Regions from separate parts of the Homo sapiens genome. Here region 1 is linked to region 2. Evidence: fine-mapped expression QTL. A gene starts in region 2. The other region holds a variant in brackets. All regions are shown on one strand. Distances are between the middles of the regions. Region 1 has its middle 190 kb from the start of TBC1D2B. Region 2 holds the start of LINGO1-AS1 (LINGO1 antisense RNA 1).

What was found.
Region 1: its variant is fine-mapped to the expression of LINGO1-AS1 in caudate (GTEx, PIP 0.99).

The regions. Positions count from the first base shown.
Region 1 is chr15:77,878,503-77,888,929 of GRCh38, reverse strand. It overlaps the pseudogene CSPG4P13. Among named protein-coding and RNA genes, the nearest start is that of TBC1D2B, 190 kb to the left of the region's middle. RefSeq lists enhancers at 494-1,236, 9,505-10,005. The variant C/G (reference allele first, on the strand shown) is at 5,722.
Region 2 is chr15:77,635,699-77,646,125 of GRCh38, reverse strand. LINGO1-AS1 (LINGO1 antisense RNA 1) reads right to left here and starts at 4,362. Exons shown (of 3, transcript NR_045123.1): 1 at 4,169-4,362. It also overlaps a transcript of LINGO1 not described here. RefSeq lists an enhancer at 50-550.

The sequences.
Region 1 (10,427 bases), 240 kb before region 2:
ACACTCCCTGGGACAGGATGTAGCCTGCACTTTGGGGCACGGGAGGACCTGGTGAGGGGAGCGGAACATTTCTCAGGATTGGTCCCTGGGGCCCAGAGTCCCTTGTGGGAATGGGAGGAGGTGAGGGTCTGTTATGTCTACTGAGAAGGCAGAGAGGGCCCTGGGGACGGGTGGGGTGCTGGCGGCAGGGAGCACTTCTGACTGCCGTGGAACCCGGTAAAGGAGAAGGGAAGGAGAACAGAGCAGGACTGGAGAGATGGGCAGACAGACAGAGAGACAGGGTAGGAAAGACAGACAGAAAGAGATGGAGGAACCACAGCCAGGGGTGGGAAAGGACAGAGAGATGGAGAGAGCGGGATGGGGGGATGGACTGAGAGATCGGGGGTGCTCTGCAGCCCGGGTGACCCTGCGCAGGGGCAGACAGAAGCCGTGAGGGGAGACTGAAGTGTGGCTTCCGTTCCATAGAGTCTTCATGGTGCTCCAGGCAGCGTGGTCAGAGTCCGGGTGGAGCCGGTGAGGAGGGAGGAAGCAGGCGTCTCTGTGGCCTCGCCCACCCCCAGCCTCCAGGGTCTAGGGGCTGGAGACCCTCCGTTCCCGGCAGTCTCCACGGGGAAGGCCCAAGGCCTATTGGAGGCAACTCAATGTTGTGGGGCAGAGCCCAGATTGACCTTGTCACCAAGATCCCCAAGGGCTGTCTTGGGCACGGCCGGGACCTTGAGGGACAGGTCTGGTCTCTGGCTTGCTATGGAGTGAGTTCCCTAGGCCTGGAGGGCTCACAAGCTAAGGCTATGGCCTGGACTCACACCTGCTGCCAGCCTCTACGCAGACCCCTCCCTTGGCTGCGCTTGTAGGGGCTGTGGGGTAACCGTAGCCTGGGGCATGTGTCATGGAGCCACAAGCAGTGACTCAGACAGTTAAAAAAGGAGCAGCTCTGAGTGGTGACTCAATTGGCTCTGGAGGGGCTGGGTGGGTCTGGCTGGTACAAGATGGGGTGGTCTGGGTTTATTTTTGGCAGGGCGGGGCTGGGGCCAGGGGGTGGAAGATGGGAACCGGGGGTGGAGAGGAGCCGCTGCTCTCATCCCGGGGGGAGCCCCAGGGCTCCATGCCAACTTAGGAAAGTGGCTTTCCAATGCCAGGGAGTCCTGGCAGGCTGGGCTGCTTCTCAGCCCCATTCCAGGCCTAGCCTGCCTTGCTGCTTGGCCCAGGACAAGCAGCTGGCTCTCTCTAGATAGAGGCAGAGGCCCCTGTCCTGTTCCCAAGAGGCTCAAGCTCAGAATTTAGAGCTGACCTAGGAGACTGAAGATTCCACCCAGAGGCCCAGATAGGGCCAGGGTCTCCCCAAGGCCACACAGCAGGGCCAGGTAGCCCAAGGGCTGTGGCACCATCAGCCAGCTGGCTCAGGTCTCTACAATATCTCACCGGCCCCAGGGCTGTCCACGGTTGGAAGGACAGCCCCTGTCTGAGTACCCACCCCTGGAGGGGCTCAGCCAGGCTCCAGGTGGGTGGCCAGAAACACATGGGCCCCACATGCCCAGAGATAGAATCTCGGCCAGGGGCAGCCACTTGGATTCTGTTAGCACATGTGGGTGGGGGGCCTGTCTGGGCCCTGTCCAGGGGTCTGTGGAGAAGAGTCACCTCTACGTGGGTGAAGGCAGTGGGGGCCTGCACAATGGGATCTTGCCCTGAGGGCTCAGGCACGGGCCGGCCCTTGTCCGGGGTCCCTCCAGTGTCCCAGCCCCAAGCTGCACACCCCACTCTGCAGTCACCTCAGTCACCTGCCCACACCTCCCCCTACTCTGAGCTCACATACACCCATCCCCCTGAGGGGTCCTAGCAGCCCAGAGCGGAGAGGGCTGTCCCCTCCCTCAGTCCGGATTTCTGCTCCTCGTGATGCAGCCACCACTGCTTATGTCATGAGTGGTGGTAACAGCCCCATGGTGGCCCTGGCAGGTGAGCTATCTTGCGTCCCTGGGCCCTGGCCTCCAGCCCCCACCTCCAGAGAGGGATTCGCGAGGGGTTGGTAGAGAGCAGGGAAAAGACAGGCTTCTAGGGTCCCTTGTCCCATAAAAGGTCCTGATACCTGCTCATTCTCTTCTCACTCACCTGCTCTGGGGACAGGGGGTTCCTGCTGTGCCCCGGCCCAGTGAGCCCCATCCTAGGGGCTGTTAGGCTTGGGAGAAACAGGCCCTGGGGAGGGCCAGGCAGGGGCTGTCCCTGCTTCTTCTAGCACTGGGAGAGGGGTGTGGGCCTCAGCCCAGTTAGCCACAGAGATGCAGACCCCCACCCCCTCCCACCTTCTGAAGGGTCCTGGGCTGGCAGGCAGCCGCTGGCTGATACCCTCTCCAGAGCCCACCTCTCCTTTTCCACGTCCCTTGGTCCCACACGGACTCACGGGGCCACCTCCTCTAGGCCTTTGCCTCGGAATCTTCCTGAAAGACTCCTAAGCAGAAGTCCCCATGTCACCAGGCCACTCCACCCTGGGAAGAAGATGCTAATAGCAGAGTGACTGCAGCCTCAGGAGCAGACGTCCACCGAGCATTGATTCCAGGCAAAGTGTCTTGCTTAATCCTCACACGTAATCCTCGACGTAAGAGGTCGAAATTATTTATCCCCATTTTAGAGAGGAGAAAACTGAGGCTCAGAAAAACAGTCACTTGCCCAAGGTCACGCATGGAGTGTTAGGGCTGGAATTCAACCTGAGCTCTCTAATGCCGTGTTTCACCACCATGTGCCTGGCCTCCTGCTTCCCTGTGTGGGTTCCCACAGCTCAGGACTCAGAGGAGGGAGAGATGGGGCCTGGGTCAGGGCTGAGGGGCAGGGGAGGGGCTCCCTCTTAGCTGCTCGCAGACTCCCAAAAAGGGTGATTTGCTCCTTCCTTGACCAGGATGGGAAGTAAGAGAGTGTGTGTGTGTGTGTGTGTGTGTGTGTGTGCACGCGCGCGCGCGCGTGTGTGTATCTGTGTCTGTGTCTGTGTGCGTATATGTGTGTCTGTGTGTGTATGTCTCTGTGTGTGTATCTGTGTGTGTCTGTGTGTGTATCTGTGTCTGTGTGCATATGTGTGTCTGTGTCTATGTGTGTCTGTGTGTGTATGTCTGTGTGTGTCTCTGTGTGTGTGCATGTGTGTCTGTGTGTATCTGTGTGTGTATGTGTGTGTCTGTGTCTCTGTGTGTGTCTGTGTGCGTGTGTGTGTGTGTCTGTGTGCACGTGTGTGTGTCTGTGTGTATGTCTGTGTGTGCGTATGTGTCTGTGTGTATGTCTGTGTGTCTGTGCGTATGTGTGTGTGTATGTCTGTCTGTGTGCGTATTTGTGTGTGTCTGTGTGCGTATGTGTGTGTCTCTGTGTGTGTGTTGTGTCTGTGTGTCTGTCTCTGTGTCTCTGTGTGTGTGTGTGTGTGTATGTGTGTGTGTGTCTGTGTCTCTGTGTGTGTCTGCATATGTGTGTGTCTGTGTATGTGTGTGTGTGTGTGTGTGTGTGTGTGTGTGTGTGTGTGTGTGTGGCTAGGCCTCAGGCCTGCCTGGCTGGCCTCCAGCTGCAGGAGAGCTGGTCTGGCCCCAGCCACTGTGCACAGGGAAGGGGCAGGGAGAAGTGGATGTCGTGGGAATCAGTGTCCTGGTCCCACTGGTATTTATAGCTGCCCCTCCCTGAAATGTGGGTGGGGGAAGGGGCTGCTCTTAGATGGGAACGGAAGTTCGTCTCCTCTCCCCAGCCCCCTCTGACTCCCCAGAGAGTGGACTGGCCCAGGCCAGAGGGCCTGCTCTGGGGGGGTTTTCCCTGGGGCTGCTGGCTCAGGGGAGGGACACTCCTTGCCTGCTGAGCAACACTGTGTGTGTGTGTGTGTGTGAGTGTGAGAGTATGTGAGTGTGAGTGTATGTGTGTGTATGTGTGTGTGAGTGTGTGTGAATGTGTATGTGTGAGTGTATGTGTGTGAATGTGTAAGTGTGTGTGTGCACACATACGCATGTGCACTTACTGGGTGTCAGGCTGAAGAAAGTCATGGACCAGGGACAGAGGCCAGCTGAGGGTAGGGGAAGAAAGGCCTGTAACCCCACAGAGATGGAGGGCAGGGCCCCAGGAGAGGGGCCATCCAGGTCATGGGTCTCAGAGCAATCTGTGGTTAGAACAGGCTCCTGGGGGTGGCGATACTGGAGCTGAGCCTTGGAGGATGGGGGAAAAGGGAAGGCCTGTTGCATGGAGCAGCTTGAGCAGAAGTGGAAGGGTGCCAGCGGTTATGGATTATTATCTGATGGCCTAGTTCTATCTGATCAGCCAGTCTGTGGGACACGGGATCACCTTGACCAGGGAGGATGATATATTTAGGGAGAGAAGGACATAGCACAACACAGTTGAGCATCCCTAATCTGAAAATTCAAAATCCAAATGTCCCTAAATCCAAAATTTTTGAGTGTCAATGGGATGCCACCAGTGGAAAATCTCACACATAAGAACTTTTTTTTTTTTTTAAGATGAACCCTCACTCACTCTGTCGCCCAGGCTGGAGTGCAGTGACATGATCTTAGCTCACTGCAACATCTGCCTCCCAGGTTCAAGCGATTCTCATGCGTCAGTCTCCTGAGTAGCTGGGATTACAGGCGTCACAAGCACACCCAGCTAATTTTTGTATTTTTAGTAGAGACAGGGTTTCACCGTGTTGGCCAGGCTGGTCTCGAACTCCTGAGCTCAGGTGACCTGCCTGCCTCAGCCTCCCAAAGTGCTGGGATTACAGGCAAGAACCACCGCGTCTGGCCTCCACACGTAAGAACGTAACATAAATTTCTCTCAGGCACAAAATTCTTTAAAAAAAATCTATAAAGTTACCTTCAGCCTATGTGTATAAGGTGTATATTAAACATAAATCAATCTCATGTTTAGATTTGGGTCCCATCTTCAAAATATCTCATTATATATAAGCGAATATTCCAAAAGCCAAAAAAAATTCAGAAATCTGAAACACTTCAGGTCCCCAACGTTTCAGATAAGGGACACTCAGCCAGTGTGGAGTGAGGGCCAGCAGGCAGCGGGCAGGAGTGGGAAGCTGGGGCAGGAGAGGCCACGCAGCCCCAGGCCTGCTGTGAGGAAGCTGGGACTGCCTTCTGCTCCCGGCCTCCAGGCTCCCAGACTTGGGGAAGGACATCTTCCAAGGACCCTTAGTACCAATCTTCATGGAACCCAATCTATAAACAGGTTTGTGGAGTGGCTCTGCATGAATTGGGGTGGGGCAGGCGTCCCATATTCCCAAGCTCAGCTGTCTCCAGGCCGGCTCAGCTGGAGAGCCCTGGGGTGCGCTGGAGCGCAGTCAGAAAATCCCTGGTTGGCTCAGTGATCTCTACACCCCTCTGGGGGCCAGGCTGTGAGCCCTACAATGGGGGAGACCCCTGAGCAAAGCAGGTGGGATGTGTGCTCCCGGGGAGCTGCTGGTCCTGAGGGTGAAGCTACCTCCCAAACCAGGGCCAAAGAGTAGGGAGCCCTCCCCCTAATCTCCTGAGGACTCACTGTGTGACTCTGAACAAGCAGGCTCCTCTGTCTGAGCCCGGGTTTCCCCAGGATCCATGGGGGGCTGGTCTGGGGTCAGGGGTTTCTGCAGTAAGTTCCGGGAAGGGAGGCAGCGTCACTGACACACCTCAACCTTAGGCCGCAGGAGAGCCACACACTGAAGTGTTGAAGCAGGAGCGATGGCTGGAGGCCTGGCTAACGCATGCATGCCAGGGCTGGCAGAGCCAGCGG[C/G]CTCCTCCACAGGCTGGGAGCCGGCCTGGGTGTGGGAAGGAGCTGAGCGAGAGGCAGGAATGCTCAACAGGACAGGCACTGTCCCTGATGGGGCCCACCCCTGCCACCAGGCCACCTTGACAGCAGCCCTACAGCTATCACCCTACATCAGAGACAAAAGTGGCTTCATTGGCAACCCTAGCTTTGGGGGGAGAGGGTTTTTTGAAGGGGATTTGCTTAGGCTGTGAGAAAGTGGGGAGGGTTTGGAAAGGGAGAGAACGCTGGCTGGTGGGGGATGGGGAGACAGAACAAACATCTGGAGTCCTCAGCGAGCTGTCTGTCCCTGCAGACCTCTCTCTTTCCCCTGCTGGGGCCCGAGCCCACTGGTGGGTGGTTGTCCACCTGGCTTGATGTAGGGAAGCTTGTTGCTGTTGGAGTGAGTGAGAATACCACGGCCTGTGTGCCCAAAGAGAGACCTGAGGCAGTCCCTGCTTTTCTCTGAGCCTCAGTTTCCTCATCTGTAAAATGGGAATGTTGGACAGGTATGGTGGCTCACACCTGTAATCCCAGCACTTTGGGAGGCCCAGGTGGGAGGCTTGCTTGAGCCGAGGAGTTCGAGACCAGCCTGGGCAACATCGTGAGACCTTGTCGCTACAAAAAATAATTACCCTGGTGTGGTGGCACATGCCTGAAGTCCCAGCTACTCAGAAGGCGGAGGTGGGGAGATCGCTTGAGCCTGGGAGGTTGAGGCTGCAGTGACTGTTTCCTGACCGGCAGGGCTGCTGTGGGGCTGCAGGACTAACAACATGGTTAGTGCACACCCTGGGACATGGGACACCCAGCTCGTACCTCTAGTGCAAGCACAGCAATAAGACAGCTTTGTCCTCTCCTGTTTGGAGTTACGGACCCTCCTGAGAAGTGGAGAGAGCTAGATACCCTTGCCCCATGGAGGAGCCAAGTACAAAATTGTTCATACAAATTCAGTTCATTTAAAAATTCCTCATACAAACTCAGTAGGAATGGTAAAACAGTAAATTTGAAACCTGTCTTAAGCTTGCAGCTGGAGGAAGAGTCTTAACTCTGGAATGCTCTATTGAACTGACATATGCTGGGGCGGAGGGCATGTTGGAGGCGAGAGGAGAGCTGGATGGGGCAGGAGTCCGGGAGAAAGGCGATGAAGGAGCAGAGGGACCAGGGAGGGGCCAATCTCTAGTCCCAGACCCACAAGCCCCTGTTCATTTTCTCCTGGCCTTGAATAGAAGACACAGCTCAGGGTGGCACCCCGTCCCCATCCTGTGCTCACTTCCTTCCTCGCAAGCGCCACTGGCCCAGATCTTTAAGGTAGGGGACTTGGAGACAGAGGCAGTAGCCATGCTCGTCCAGGTCTGTGAGAGTGGCCGTGTGCAAGTGTGTGTGCCCACATCTGTGTGCGCCAGTAAGTGTGGATGTCAGGGCTATTTCCAACTCCCCCTCCCCTGCCCACCCGTCCTGGGCAGCACTCCCAGTTCCCAGACACAGCCTATACACTTCCTCCGCGAGCTCCACACGCACCCCACTCCCCTCCTGCCATCATCGACAGCCGCCTGGCCCACCTGGCATGGCCCACCCCAGGCCCCCCAGGCGGGCAGCACTAAAAGGCCCTTCTTGTCCTGCCCGGGCGGGCAGGCGTAGGGAGGGAGGCTCCGTTACACTTGCTCTAGAACAGTTTTTCTCGAGTCCGGGTGGGCTGGGCCAAGGGCTCTGGCCCCTGGGCCCTGCCCTGCTCCGGAGGCCTGGGGTGGCACACAAGGTGCACACAAGGCTCAGTGCCTGTCCCGAGCACCATCGGTCCCCCCAAGCCATCCTCAGAGGCAGCAGGATCTACCCTGCTTCAATTTCTTGTACCTGGTGTCCCTGTGGCCCTGCTCACTAAGATACCCCCATCAGTTCTGAGTCCCCACTCAGGTAACACACAAGCCCTCCCTGCCAGGTACTCCCCCACCTGGGTCCCACTTCAACCCCTCACATTCTGCCTTTCAGTCAGCGATGCCAGGGAAGAAGTGTGGGAGCCACCACCCCTGCCTGCCCTGTGCTCACTGTGACCCCCCGACTAGAATGTCACCTCCTTCCTTCTCTGCCTGTCCTTCCAGTATCAGCTCAAATCCAATCTCCCCAATGCTTGGCTCTCTGCTGGGGCCTCCCATACAGCTCAGAAGGAGGTGGACACCGCATCTGTCACCCACACTGTCTCAGTGGCCCAAGCCTAGGCCCCGACGCAGGCTGGGAGCACCCTCGAAGCAGGGCTGGAGGCTCTTCCTGGGCTGCTGGGGTTCTTGGTGGAACTCAGAGTACTTTTCTTCCTCTCTGGGGCCTCAGTTTCCCTCTCTATACAAGTGGAAGATTGGCCCAGATGGCCTCTAGGTTGCTGACTGCCAGGCCCCCTGACCCGGATGCCTCAAATGTTGATGAGTAGAGGGAGAGCCTCCCAGCACGCCTCATTCGGATACGGGAGGACGAGGGCCTTTGCAGCCAGGGGCATCCGGGAGGGGTGGGAGGGACGCCTTCCTCAGGCAGGGGCTGCCCCTACTGCAGAAATCAGGGCAGGCAGCTGGACCAGGAGTGGTGACAGAGATGGGTTGCTGGACGGGAGCTCTCACAGCCCCTCCTCATTTCCGAGTCCTCCTAAAGGCAGGGGATGGTGTAACTTTATAAAACCCCACAGCACCATGCTGCTCTCTTGCCCTAAAACCCTTGTGGCATCTCCTTTGCCAACAGGGCATAAGGCCGTGGGCTTCATTTTGCCATTTAAGGCTTCTGTGCCCCAGCCCAGTGGTTCTCCCTGGCCTGTGCTCGAAATATGCCTCCCAGCCAGGCTGCTGGCCTTCCTGTCTCAACACCCCTCTGCTTACACCCACCTTGGTGCCTCTGAGTCAGCGCCCCTGCCTGGAGGACTGACTCCCTTCCCATCCACCAAGGCTTGGTTTGAGGCCCACCCTGTGTCCTGCCCCAGCTTGCCCCTGCTTTTCTCCCCTCTGTACTTTTCATCCAGATTTTTGCTGTTTGAGATTTAATTTGCCTTTCTGCCTCCTGAATGAGTCTCAGTTCAGCCTCTCAATTTCCCGTGCCCCTGCGAGCCTAGCACCATGCCTGCATGCTGTCAGGGCTAAGAAGGTATTTGAGAATGGCTCTCAGTTGAAGCCCAAGGAGGTGGGGGTACTGGAATCCCTCCTTGGCTGGAGGCTGGGGCCTGAATGAGCTGACCACCCTGGTCACCTTGGATGCTCCCTTCCCATCTCCCTGGCGGCCCAGCCCATCCCTCAGGCCCTGAGATCTTAGGGGATCTGGTCCCTGCAGGAACAGGGAGCCTGGGGATCCAGCCCTGATTCACCCCGCGGGGGTCCTCCCTTGACTCACTTCCCTTCTGGGAACCATGTGATGCCCTCTTTTAGAGCTGGCTTCTCCATCTGAAGGAGAGAAGGGTGTAGCCTGGGCCCTTGTGAAGGAGGCTCAGGCCCTGCCTTTGCTCCATGCTGCTCTTGGGAATGATCTCGAAGGTGTAGCTGAAGCACTGAATCACACATGGGTAGTGATGATGGATGGGCCCTAAGGCTGCAGTTCTTATGGCATAACTAGAGCTGCCTTCGCTGAAGGAAGAATGCTGTCATGTTGGGGTTTCTGGCATCGGGACAGAGAGGGGATATATCCCAGCACTTCTCTGAAAGCGAACTTCCATTCAGCCTCTGCTGGGTCAGGCATCAGTGCTGGGATGAGGAGGTGTGGCAGGGGGTGGTCCAGAGCTATCTGTAGGACAAGCCCCGCTGAGGGGCACCAGCTCTCCCTCTAGGAGGCTGAGAGTGGGTAGTGGGTGGGGGGTCCTGCCTGTCACCAACAGGAGGAGGGAGAGGAGAGAATGAAGAGGGGAGGTGGCAGATAGATGGATCTGCAAGGAAGCAAGGGGAGGAGAGAAGGGGCAGAGCTGGGGGGCAGCTGGAGGGGTGTGGGGGTGCTCCTCACAGGGGAGGGCAGGGTGGCTCCTTCCTCGTTTCCCACCTTGTAGCACTCCCCGTTCCTGGCCCAGGGCATCTGAAGCTGGAGGACCCACTTCTCACTGTCGCCGGGTCCCTTTGGACCCCAACATACTCACCCCAAACTTGCCTGGCAAACAAAGCTCGGACAGCATTGGGGTGGCCCCACTGGTGTCTCAGACAATCCAAACGGGCAAAGCCACGCCCTAGGCAATCCATGCCTAGGGCGCCTGCTCCCGCCCCTAACTGGACAGCCTTGGCTAGCTAGAAACCCCATAACCTGAGATAGCGGGGTCCCGTGTCCGCCCCAGGATTGAACCCCTGGCGACCCCAGCTAGTGGTGGGAGAAGCGCAGCCTGCTTGACTTCTGATCTGGGGGCCACTTCTGGGTCCTCCTGTCCCTTTTCCCTCCCTGAGGAACCCCTCTAGTTCTGCCAGGCTGGGTCAGGGTCTCAGGCCCCTCACTCATCCACGGATGCAAGTCTGGCCAACATAGCCAGGGTCAAAGCCAGGGCCAGGGCAGGGGCTGGAGGTGAGGGCTGTGGCGTGGACTGCATCCCGGCTGGCTGAGTGTCAGGACTTTCGAGGTGTGATGGTGACTGATCCATGCGGGGGTTATGAGTACTGGTCTTGAAACCAGAGAGACCTGGGTTCGAATCCCCGCTCTCCTACTTGGCTGTCAAACCTTGAACAAGTCACCTCACCTCTCTGTGGCAGTTTCCT
Region 2 (10,427 bases):
CAGCTGGGTGTCTGTTCCATCACACGCCACCAGGCTCATGCTGAAGCCCCTTCAACCACCCTTTTATCTCGCCCACTCCCCAGCCTCTAAATGAGGCAGACACCATCCCTGCTTTGCAGATGGAGAAAGCCAGGCCTGCTTGCCCATGCACTTGCTCATCACAGGACTCACCCTGGGCTGCCAGCCACACCGAGGCCACCTGGCACCCCCAGGCAGTGGAGGTGTCTAAGGGCACTTGGCATCTTACACCCCTGGGCTGTCCCCTTCGTGAGTGAGGCTAGCTAATGCCCACCACAAAGGGAGAATTACCAGCGAGGCCTTGAGCTTTGCTCCTGTTTACACTTCAGTTCCCAGTGCACACGGCTGGCTTCAGGAAAGGCCACCAGCTCTTCTAAAGCGGGTCTGGAGCCAGCTCTCTGGTGGGACTGGGAAGACGTGTATGGGATGCAGAGTGCGGGCAGGCTCAGAACTGAGGCCCACGGAGGCAGCAGCCCTGTGTTCACCAGTCAGAGACCCACTGGCCTAGGGATGGGAGGATGAACACAGTAGCCCTGAATTTGTTCACGATGTTTTCCACACTTCAGGCATTAGCTGGCATTTATCTTTAGCCATGAGGCGTGCACGTCCACCTCGCTCTACCTTCAGCACGTTAAGTAAATGGGACTCTGCTGCCAAGTTTAAGCCTAGAAAGAGAGCTGGGCACTGGTCTACTGAGTGGTCTGGGTAGCTCTTGGGAGAGAGGCAGTGATAAAGAGTGGGCCTCAGGGCCATGCCTCCACCCTATCCCACCCACCCCACTGTGGGCCCTGGGGCCTGCTGTCCCAGCGTCTTGGGCTGTGATGTGTGGAGTCCCTACAAGCTGGCTGGCCAGGGCTCCTTCCTCCCAGTGCCCTCAGCCCCTGGTGTTGGGAATGGATGGGCACTGCTCCCTGCACCGCCCGTTCTGAGTGTGTATGTTTGGGAGGAGGGGTGTCTGGAAGTGCAGAGAGGGGTCCACAGCCTGTGAGTCACTGGGAACTTCCTGAAAGCGCACCAGGCCTCTCTCCCCACTCCTGATGAGCCACCACCACCATGCAGGTATTTATGGCTGGTTTTCACGCCCCAGCAGGTGGTGTGAACACACTGTGTCTGAGTGTAAACGCCCATGTTTTGATTTAAGAGTGTGGGGAGCCCTCCTATCGTCTGGGGCCTTCTAGATCTCTCCGCCTCTCGGGCTGCTGGCCTGAGCCACATTGTTTATCCCATAGAGGAGAGCCCACCCAGTGGCCCTTTATCCAACCCTAAACCGCTCGTCACCAGGGCCAGGCCTGGCCGCTGGTCCTGGCTCCACCAGTGCAACTTACCTCACCCCTCTTAGCCCCAGTTTTCTCGTCTGTCAAATGGGCACAGCAGCCACTTCTGTGTTTGCTGGAGGGATTGAGGGAGCCAGCCAGTGCTGTGTCCCTCAGCTTCCGAAGTGGCCAGTGAGAGGCTGACCCGGGCTCAGCCTGCCCCTGGGCTTAGCTCTGCTCTGGGGCCCATTTCCTGTCATATTCTGGGTCCACATCCTGGGCTCTGTCTTGCTCTCCTGGTATTGCTAGCACCTCCACCAATGCCATCCTTATTTCCCAGGTGACGGAAATACCACAGGGTGGGCTCAGAAGAAGCAGGTAGATGCTCAAGCCTGTTTGGGGACCCCTGGAACCAGGGTACCCCTCCTCGACCACCTCCCGTGCAGGCTCAGGGCAGCCATGTTGAGGGGGTTGTGCTTCCAGGATGGCCTGGGCAGAGAAGGGATAGAGAGAGAGGGCACAGCCCGGGTACAGCTGTGGCTCCTCCGGCACAGCTGGGCAACCCTGAATGGGGGCTTTTGCCTGTGGACTGGTGAAGGAGCTGCAGAAAAGTTCTGCTCGGGACACCTACCCTGACACACACGACAGAGACACCACACACATGTTCAACATGACACATACCACAGAGTTCGACAACACAACACAGCTACGTATCCTTCCTAAACTCCCCAGCGTAGATACATTCGCAAAGCAGATGCCGCTGCCCCAGCTAGATTCACGGTCACAAGGACTCTCCCCTGGAGGGCTCCTGAGTGCCGGGCCCTGCCCCGTGGCTCTGATGGATTCTCCCAGCGTGTCCTCACCACTCTTTGGAGCAGGTGCCACATTCAGGAATGAGGGCGGAGCGGGGAGGGACTTGGCCAAGTGCTCTGCCCAGAGGAGTCCACATTTCAGGAGGTCCTTGAGCCATTGCACCCCCACCCCCATTTCCCTGTTTACAGCTGTCACCCCCTGCCCTTTCCCATGCTGGAGCAGGAAGAGGTGGGAATGAAAAGTGTCCTCCCTGGAGGTGGCACCAGACTCGGGAAGGAAGCTTTCCCTTGGGTTTGCTGCCCCTGGGCCAGGGCTGTGGGTGCTGCCCTCTGGGGGTTAAGCCCTGAACCATGGTGCTGGGGTGGCCACCTGCAGTACCCCCACCTCCATGCCACCCCTGTGATGAGGGAGTTTCTCAGACACTTTGCCCATAACCAAAGGCATGGCATGCCCGAGAATGGCAGGGAAGGGGGTGGCAGGCCAAGGAGCCAGGAGAGCCCCTGCGGAAGCTCTGTAGGCCTGAGGCTCCCAGCTTTCCCTCCCGCCATCCAACCCCGATGCCCCATGGGCCTCTCAGCCCCTCCCTGTAACCGGACCATTGCTGGTGTCCCAGCAGCCCTTCTCAAGGTCTGACCTAGACGGGGAGGGGAGAGGGCCCTTCCCACTGCGGACCTCCCTACCCTGAGGTTTGCCTCTGTCCCCAGTCCTGCCCCAGGGCCCTGGGTCTCCCCTGATCCTGTGGACAGCCCTGCTCTCCTGCCTAGTCCAGCCCACACAGCCGTCCTGCTCCCAGCACCATCCAGGGGACCTGAAAGACATCTCCATCCCCTATCTGACCAGGCTGCCCTGACTGATACTGTAAGTGCCAGCCCCAGCTGCCCTCACCCTGATAAGCGGGTGACAGACAGGCAGGTGTCCAGGGCACGGGGAGTTCTTGGGCAGAAAGAGAGCTCCTGGGAATGCCACACCACCACACCACAGTGGCTGTCAGAGAGTGCGCTGTGTGTGAGTCTCTGTCTCCTCCCAGAGCTAAGTCCAGTGGTGTGGGGAGAGGCACCAAGCCCAGGCTCCACAAGCTTCCTTGCTGACTCGCTGCATGGCCTCAGGCAGCTAAGGCACCTCTCTGTGCATCTGCAAAGAGGCCTCAGCGGGATAGACCAAGGCTGCACAAGTGAGATAAGGGGTGCAGAGAGGACCCCTGGGAGAAGAGGCTCAAAGCGTATTTGATAAGAATTTTCGGGATTCCCTCTTTTCCTCTGGGAGAAGGGAAGCACTTGCAGAAGTAATGCCCTGCTGGGGGATTTCCGGACCCGGAGATGAACCTGTCTGCTGCCCAAGCCCAAGTGCCGGTCCCAGCCTTGCTCCCTGTGTGGTATGGAGCAGACTATGGGGGCTCTGAAGGGCTTCCTAGGGCCAGGTTGGGGAGAGGGGCACCTTCCCTAGGCCCAGACTGCCCTCCTGGCCTTCGTGTGGCCCTTGGCAGAGCTGAGCACTCCATGGGCACCTAAGTGTCCAAATTAGGCTGCCTGGAAGGGAACATCTCAGAGACTGCAGACCCCCAGCCTGAGGGGAAGTGGCCTTCCAAGCTCTTCACATAGAGGAGCCAAAATGCCAACCTTCCCAGCTGTTCTTTCTATCCTCCTTTCTCCCTCTCCCCACACCATGGGGCCTCTCCCTGTTGGCAGCTCTGACTCGAGAGGCCTGCCTCTGTTTCCCTCCTCCACTCCCTGGGGGTGGGGGTCCCCCATGCATGGTGAAGCCTAGGATGAACCAAGCCCTGGCAACTGGACACCTTCCCCCTCCGCAGCTGTCTCCCCTCCCACTGCTGTCCTGGACTCAGGTCTTAATGGAGCGTAAACAGCCAGGCAGACGGAAGCCTCATTAGGCCTGATCTAATTAGGAGCCCCTGAGATATGGGGGTGGAAGGCAGAGGTGGAGGAGCGCCCCATTTATGAGGGCCTACTGTCCACAAGAAATGTCACACGCATATGCTCTTAGAACCCTTCCCACAACCCTCCAAGATAGGCATGAGTATCCCCAGGTGGCATGAATGGAAAGCGGCTCAGAGAGGGCAGGTGACTTACCCAAGACCACTCCGCCAACAGGTGGCTTCCCTGGGATGTGCACCCTGAGTGTCTGACCCCAGTGTCTAGTTCTTCCCAGCATCCCAGCTGGCCTCAGCCTATCAGGCTGGGCAGGACCTCTGACATCCTCTGTCGCAGGTTTGTCCAGCTGCTATCTGAACCCACAGTGCTGGGACAGCCACAGCCCCGTTTCTGGCTCTCTGTGTCTCTGGGCCTCTTCTCTCTCCCAGCACCACCTGACTCCACAGTGGGTCAAGATGGTGGGAGACGGGGTGTGGGGCCAGTCAGGCTCTCAGCCTCCTACCACGCCCACTCCTCATCTGTCTCCTTCTGTAATTGGGGAGGGTGTAGGGGGAGCCCATGCAGTGCCAAGAGGCCGGCCGCCCCTTCGTTAGTCTTAGCTAACAAGCTGTTTATGGGTGCGACATGACACCTGCTTTCTTCTTTATAACTTCAATAATTTATAGGCATATTAGTGGACAAGCAGCCGCCCTGGGTCCCAGCCAGACGGGCCGGGGTGATGCAGCTGGGTGCCTCTGCTGATATTTACTCTCTCCCACCATCAATTATTAAGGAGCCCTCCTTCGTTTTTGCACATAATTACATGCACCGTTATGGTTCAAACTCCCCTGCTCTTAATCTCTCTGGAGAGGGACCCAGCCTACCCAACAGGGCTGAGATGGCATGGGGACCCATCAGCTGGAGAAGAAGGCAGGCAGCCACCCTACCTGGGCGAGAGGTGGTGGCAGCCTCAGCCTCGCACCCCACTCTCAGCTGAGCTGGCACCTCCTTGGCCAGCAGCGGCCTTCCTCAGGGCTGGCTGTCTCTCCCCTCCATCCCAGGGCCCAGCCTTTGCACCTGCTGTTCTGCCTGGAGCACCAGCCTCTACCTTCCGTGTACCTGACTGATCCCAACTCATCCTTTGATTTCAGCTCAGCCATTGCTTCCTTCTGGATGTCTGACCTGCCTGCTGTGTGTGTGCAGCCCCACCCCCACTTCTCCCACCTCAGCCTGGATCACACTAGGTTGAGTCTTGCCTGCCAGACCATGGGCTTTGGAGCCTAGAGAAAACTGTGGCAAATGTTTGGCATTTGATGAATGAATGAATGAATGAATGAATGAATGAATGAGGAGATGAATGGATGGATGCCTCCACCTGTCTCACCACCAATGAGCCCACTGAAGCATTCGCCTTCACCCTCCTCCCCCAGGAAGCCTCTCCTGTTTGCTCCACCTCCTCTGGACTCCTCCAGACTCTCCTGGTCTGTGCTGAGATTCCCCAGTGGGCACCAAGGCCTGGTCTCCGTCTATGTCCCCAACACCAAACAGAGGACAGGTCAGAATGGAGGGAGGGTACATCCTGACAATCTCAGCTGTCAGTGTGACCTGGGGAAGTTGCTCACCCTCCCTGATCCTGTTTCCTAACTGCTAAATGAGGATAATAACAGTCCCTACTTTACAGGGTGTGATTGAGGCTTATATAATTTGTAAAAGCACCTAGTATGTGGCCTAGCATGCCAGAGGTGCTCAAGTAATATCCTTAACCTCACCCGTTGTCTGTCCGTGATTTGAGCCCATGTGAAATTGAACCATACTGAATTACGTTGGATTGAATTGTCTTATTTACGCCTTCTCTCGTCCACACTTCCTTGTTTTTAGTCTCCCCTGCCATGTAGCTGGGACCAGGCTTGGCTCACAGGGTCTCTGCAAATATTCCAGGTTGATTAATCAAGACTTTGCGAGTCTCTCAAGCCACACCTATCTAGGGAAAGGAGTGAGTGTCTCCCAAGTCACAGAAAAATAAACTGAGGCCAGGGAGATAATGTGGACTCCTCCAAGTTAATGACAGAGTGAGGAACCAAGTCCTGGCTTCCTGCTAGGCTGGAAAGCCCAGGAATATCTCCCTGGATTCTGTGTGCCTCAGTTTCCCCACTGTAAGATGAGATAGTAATAGAAGGGAGCCCATAGCGTTGCTGAGAGGATTGAGCGGGTTGCTGAGTGAGTGGATAACACACTTAGAACCACCGTGCTGCTCATGGTGTGGGGTTCAAAGTGTGGGGATCAGGATAGGCCTGACTCTGCCACCTCCCCTTCTCTCTCCCTAGAGGTGACAGTCCTCTGGAATTGGTGTTAATCACTGTCCTGCGTGTTTTAATACTTTTCCTATATTTGTAGGTATCCATATTCAGTTTATAGGGCTTGGGGCTTGTTTTTAAACTTGAGATAAATGGTATACCTTGTACATATGTTTTTTCCTCCACATCGTGTTTATGAGATCACCTATGCTGATGCAAGTAACTCCAACATAGCTGTTTTCACTGCTGCATAGTATTCCATTGTGCGAATGTACCGTGTTCTGTACATTCCTTTTCCCAATGATGGGCACTTAGGCCATTTCCTGTTTTTCGCTATAACAATCCTGCCATGCGCGCTCCTCTGCTTGCCCTCGTGTGCTCATGCCTCGGGGAACTGCTGGGTCGTAGGGTGTGCGTCTTTCCACCTTTACTGGATAACCACCAAGTTGCCGGGCCATTCCTTGCCCCCCTTGAGAGCAGACACTTTGCCTGCCTTATCTCAATACCCTCGCCACACTGGGAGAAAGGAGTTACTATACCCATTTTACAGATGGAGCATGAGTTTAATTATCTATTGCTGCATAACAAATCACTCCAAAACTTAGCTTAAAACAGCAAATATGTATTACCTCCCAGTTTCAGTAAGTTGGGAATCCAGGTGAGGCTTAGCTGGGTACCTCTAGCTCAGGGCCTCTCACAAGGCTCCCATCTAGACATCAGCCGGAGCTTCAGTCATCTCAAGGCTCAACTCAAAGAGGAGCTGTTTCCAAGCTCACTCAAGTGGCGATTGGAAGGTCCCAGGGCCTCATGGGGGGTTGACTAGAGACATCAGTTCCTTTCTATGTGGGCTTCTCGTAACATGGCAACTGGCCCTCCTCATAGCAAAAAGCAAGTGATCGAGAAAAGGTACCCAAGATGGAAACCACAGTTGTTTTGTAATCTAATCTCACAAGTGACATTGTGTCACTTCTGCCGTATTCTGTTCACTAAAAGTGGGTCCACTGATCCAGCCCACACTGAAGGGGAGGGGATTACACAAGCAGGGCAATACCAGAAGGCAGGGACCACTGGGAGTCCTCTTAGGGGCTGCCTATCACTGGGCAACTGAGACTCAGAGAGGTAAAGTGACTTGCCTAGGGTGACACAGGAGTCAGAGACAGAGTCAGAACTGGAACCCAAGACTGCCTGGCCCTGATGCTGGGCACCTTTCGAGCCACTATGCTGCCTTTGACTTAATAACAGGCTCCGACTTAAGTTAATAAACAAGTCTCCTGCACAACAGAACTTAAGGCAAGCGCTTAATGAATGGATTTGCTAATAGTGCTGCCTGTTTGCACACATTAGCTCAAATTCCCCCTGACATGATCCATGGGGACAGCCGAGCCAGGCTCTCAGGAGGAGCCTCTCTGCCAAGCACAGAGCCCAAGTTCCCATGGAGCCAGGGAGTGATCTTACATTTTCTATTTGTTTTTTTGTTTTTGCTCCTAATCTAATTTTTTTTAAAGGAGTGCACACTTCCTTGACTTCTTAAGAACAGCTAACTGCATCCCACAGTAACTCAAGGTCAGGAACACTGGGTGTTTTCCTGGGGGGAACTTCGGCGGGGGTAGTGCTGAGGGGCCCTTTACGGACTGGCCCCAGACCAATTTCTTGCTTCTCAGCCACTGTAGACACAGCAGCCAGGCCACCCAGTGCAGAAGGGCCGTGGCAGCACTGAGTGGGGGCCAGGCCCAGACCTCATTTCTCTGCCAGGGCTTCTGTCTTGAGTTCTCCAAGAGCCTTTGGGCTTCCCCGGATTCCCAGTGAGATTCCCAGTAGGGGAGGCTGCTGACTACGTTGCTTCTAGACAAGTGACCTGTCACTGGTGCTGAAACATTTCCTTGGAGGCATGGGTGCCCCATGGTGAGAGGGAGTAAGAAGTATGGATTCAAGAGTGTCCCTGCCCCCATGCCCTGGCCCTCCTCTCTAGGGGAATCTACTGGGCCTTCCTGATTAAGAGACTTCAGTCAGGTGTAATTTGTAGACATCAGACCCTCTGGAATCAGGGCTGTGGGCTGGCTGTGGAAACTGGAGGAGACAAGATGAATCCAAGCCCTCAGGGTGTTCCTGATTCTCAGGCGACAGAGAATGTGGTCCAGGTGTCTCCGAGTGGGAATGCTGAAAGGGACCTTAGGCTAGAGCCCTGACTTTAAAGAGAAGGGGTCAGGAGGCAGCCAGTGACCATGACAGTCAGTATGATCACCTAAAAATACCTGCATTTATCAAGCTCCTACTACATCAGCATCAGGTAGATACCAGCCACACGTTAAGCCATGAGACCCTCACACCACCCCGTGAAACCGACATTATCTTACAGAGGAGGAAACTGAGACTCAGGAAGGTGTCCAGGGACATACAGCCCCGCCCGAGGGGAAGGTGAGGTTCTCAGCAGGTTTTTGGAAGGAGGGGGACACACAGGGACCTGAACTGGAAGGGGAGAGGATTTGAGGGGCTGAGAAAGCTATCGATGACAAGACAAGCATGAAGTAAATGCCAGGGAAGAGGATGCCCCAGTTAACGGGGGTGGGCCTCCCACACACCCTTGCCCTTGAGTCTTGGCCTCAGCCTGCACCCACCATGGATGTTCCCTGGGAACCTGCATATCTCCACACCAACTTGGGCCAGCCACTGTGGGGAGAGAACCCCTCCAGGTGAGCCCCTGTGCCTTCCCCATGTTGGCTGCCCCATGCAGGATGTGGAGGATCCAGACTTGGGCAGCACTGGATGAGGGACTTTCCTTTAAGATACTCAGGCCTGACCCTTTGTGACATGCTTACATGGGAAGCTGGTGTCCCCAAGTCTGCTCTGACTCTTGAGGAGGGGGTCAGGAGGGGGCAGGAAGGCTCTATACCGAGCCACATCTCCAGGACCACCTCCAAGAAGGGACTGTCCCGCTAGCCCCCTCAGGTGCCTCCATCCCTGTCTGGCCTCCACAGTGCACCAGCGCAGGGCCTGACCTATGGATTTTCTGCCACTTCTCAATCCACTTCACTCTAGCCTAGTACTTCATTACACAGCGGCCTCAGCAACCCCATCATGGAGGGCTGTGGGTCTCTGTGGTGGCTTCTGGAGGCTACATGGCCCCCACCTTCTGGACTTCAGCCTTTTAGGGGATCAGGGTCGTCCAAGGAGCCCTGAGCTTAGAGACCCCCCCAGGGCAACCTCTCATTGCATAGCTGGGGAAACTTTGGCCCAGGGAGTGGCTGTGACCCCCTCAAGGTCACACAGCAAGTTAACAAGTTAACTTGTGGCATAAAGTAGAACACGGGGTCCACCTGAGCACCCAGCTCCACAGGGCCCCCCAGCTGGATGCTGGCTCCACCTCACTCCCCCAGCCCTGCTCCATGCCCAATGCCAGCTGCCCAACCCCCACTCACCTCCAAGGCTCCTGGTCTCCGTTTTTCTTGCTAATTAGAGGTCTCAGCAATGACTCTGCTGTCCCAGCCATTTTAGAGCCGTCATTAATTTCAAGTGCCTTCAGAAATAATCATCATCGTAAAACCCTGCGAGCTGCTGGGATGCCAGTGGATAGGACCAGCATAGAGCAGGCATGTAGGCAGGCCTGTGTGTGCCACCCTCTCCTTTCTGTGCCTGGGGGACCCTTGGTCCTTGCCCCAGCTCCACCTCCTGCCTCCTCAGCCTCTCAGAGTGAAAGGAGAGCAGGACTAACATTAGATACACACAGAGCTTCAAAGCCCAGCTCTAACTCGTGCACAGAGTGAACTTGAGCAAGTCACCAGCCCTCCCAGAGCCTCGGTCTTCTCATCTGTACAGTAGGAACAGCAATGCCAATCTTGCAGAGAGACAAAGATGTGAAGTGTGGCTGAGTCTGGCTTATAGTAAGGGCTGAATACATGGTGGAGGGCCTTCTCCCCTCCTCCTGTGTTCCCGGGCAAACCCATTCCAGCTTCTCCACTTTGCAGTGAGCAGTCAGGCTGGCTCCTTCCAGCCACTGGCTCCTGCTTTATTGGGACTTGCTGAGTTCTCAGCCTGCAGCCAGGGTCTGCTGTGTGCCCACCTATGAGACACGCAGTCTCAGATCTGCTCTTGGGAGCACCTAGTCTGAGGATAGAGGGAAAAGATTTGGGCCTTGCCTCTAATGTCATTTCAGTCTGGGGAGAGGAGACAGGAATAGAAGAGATGGG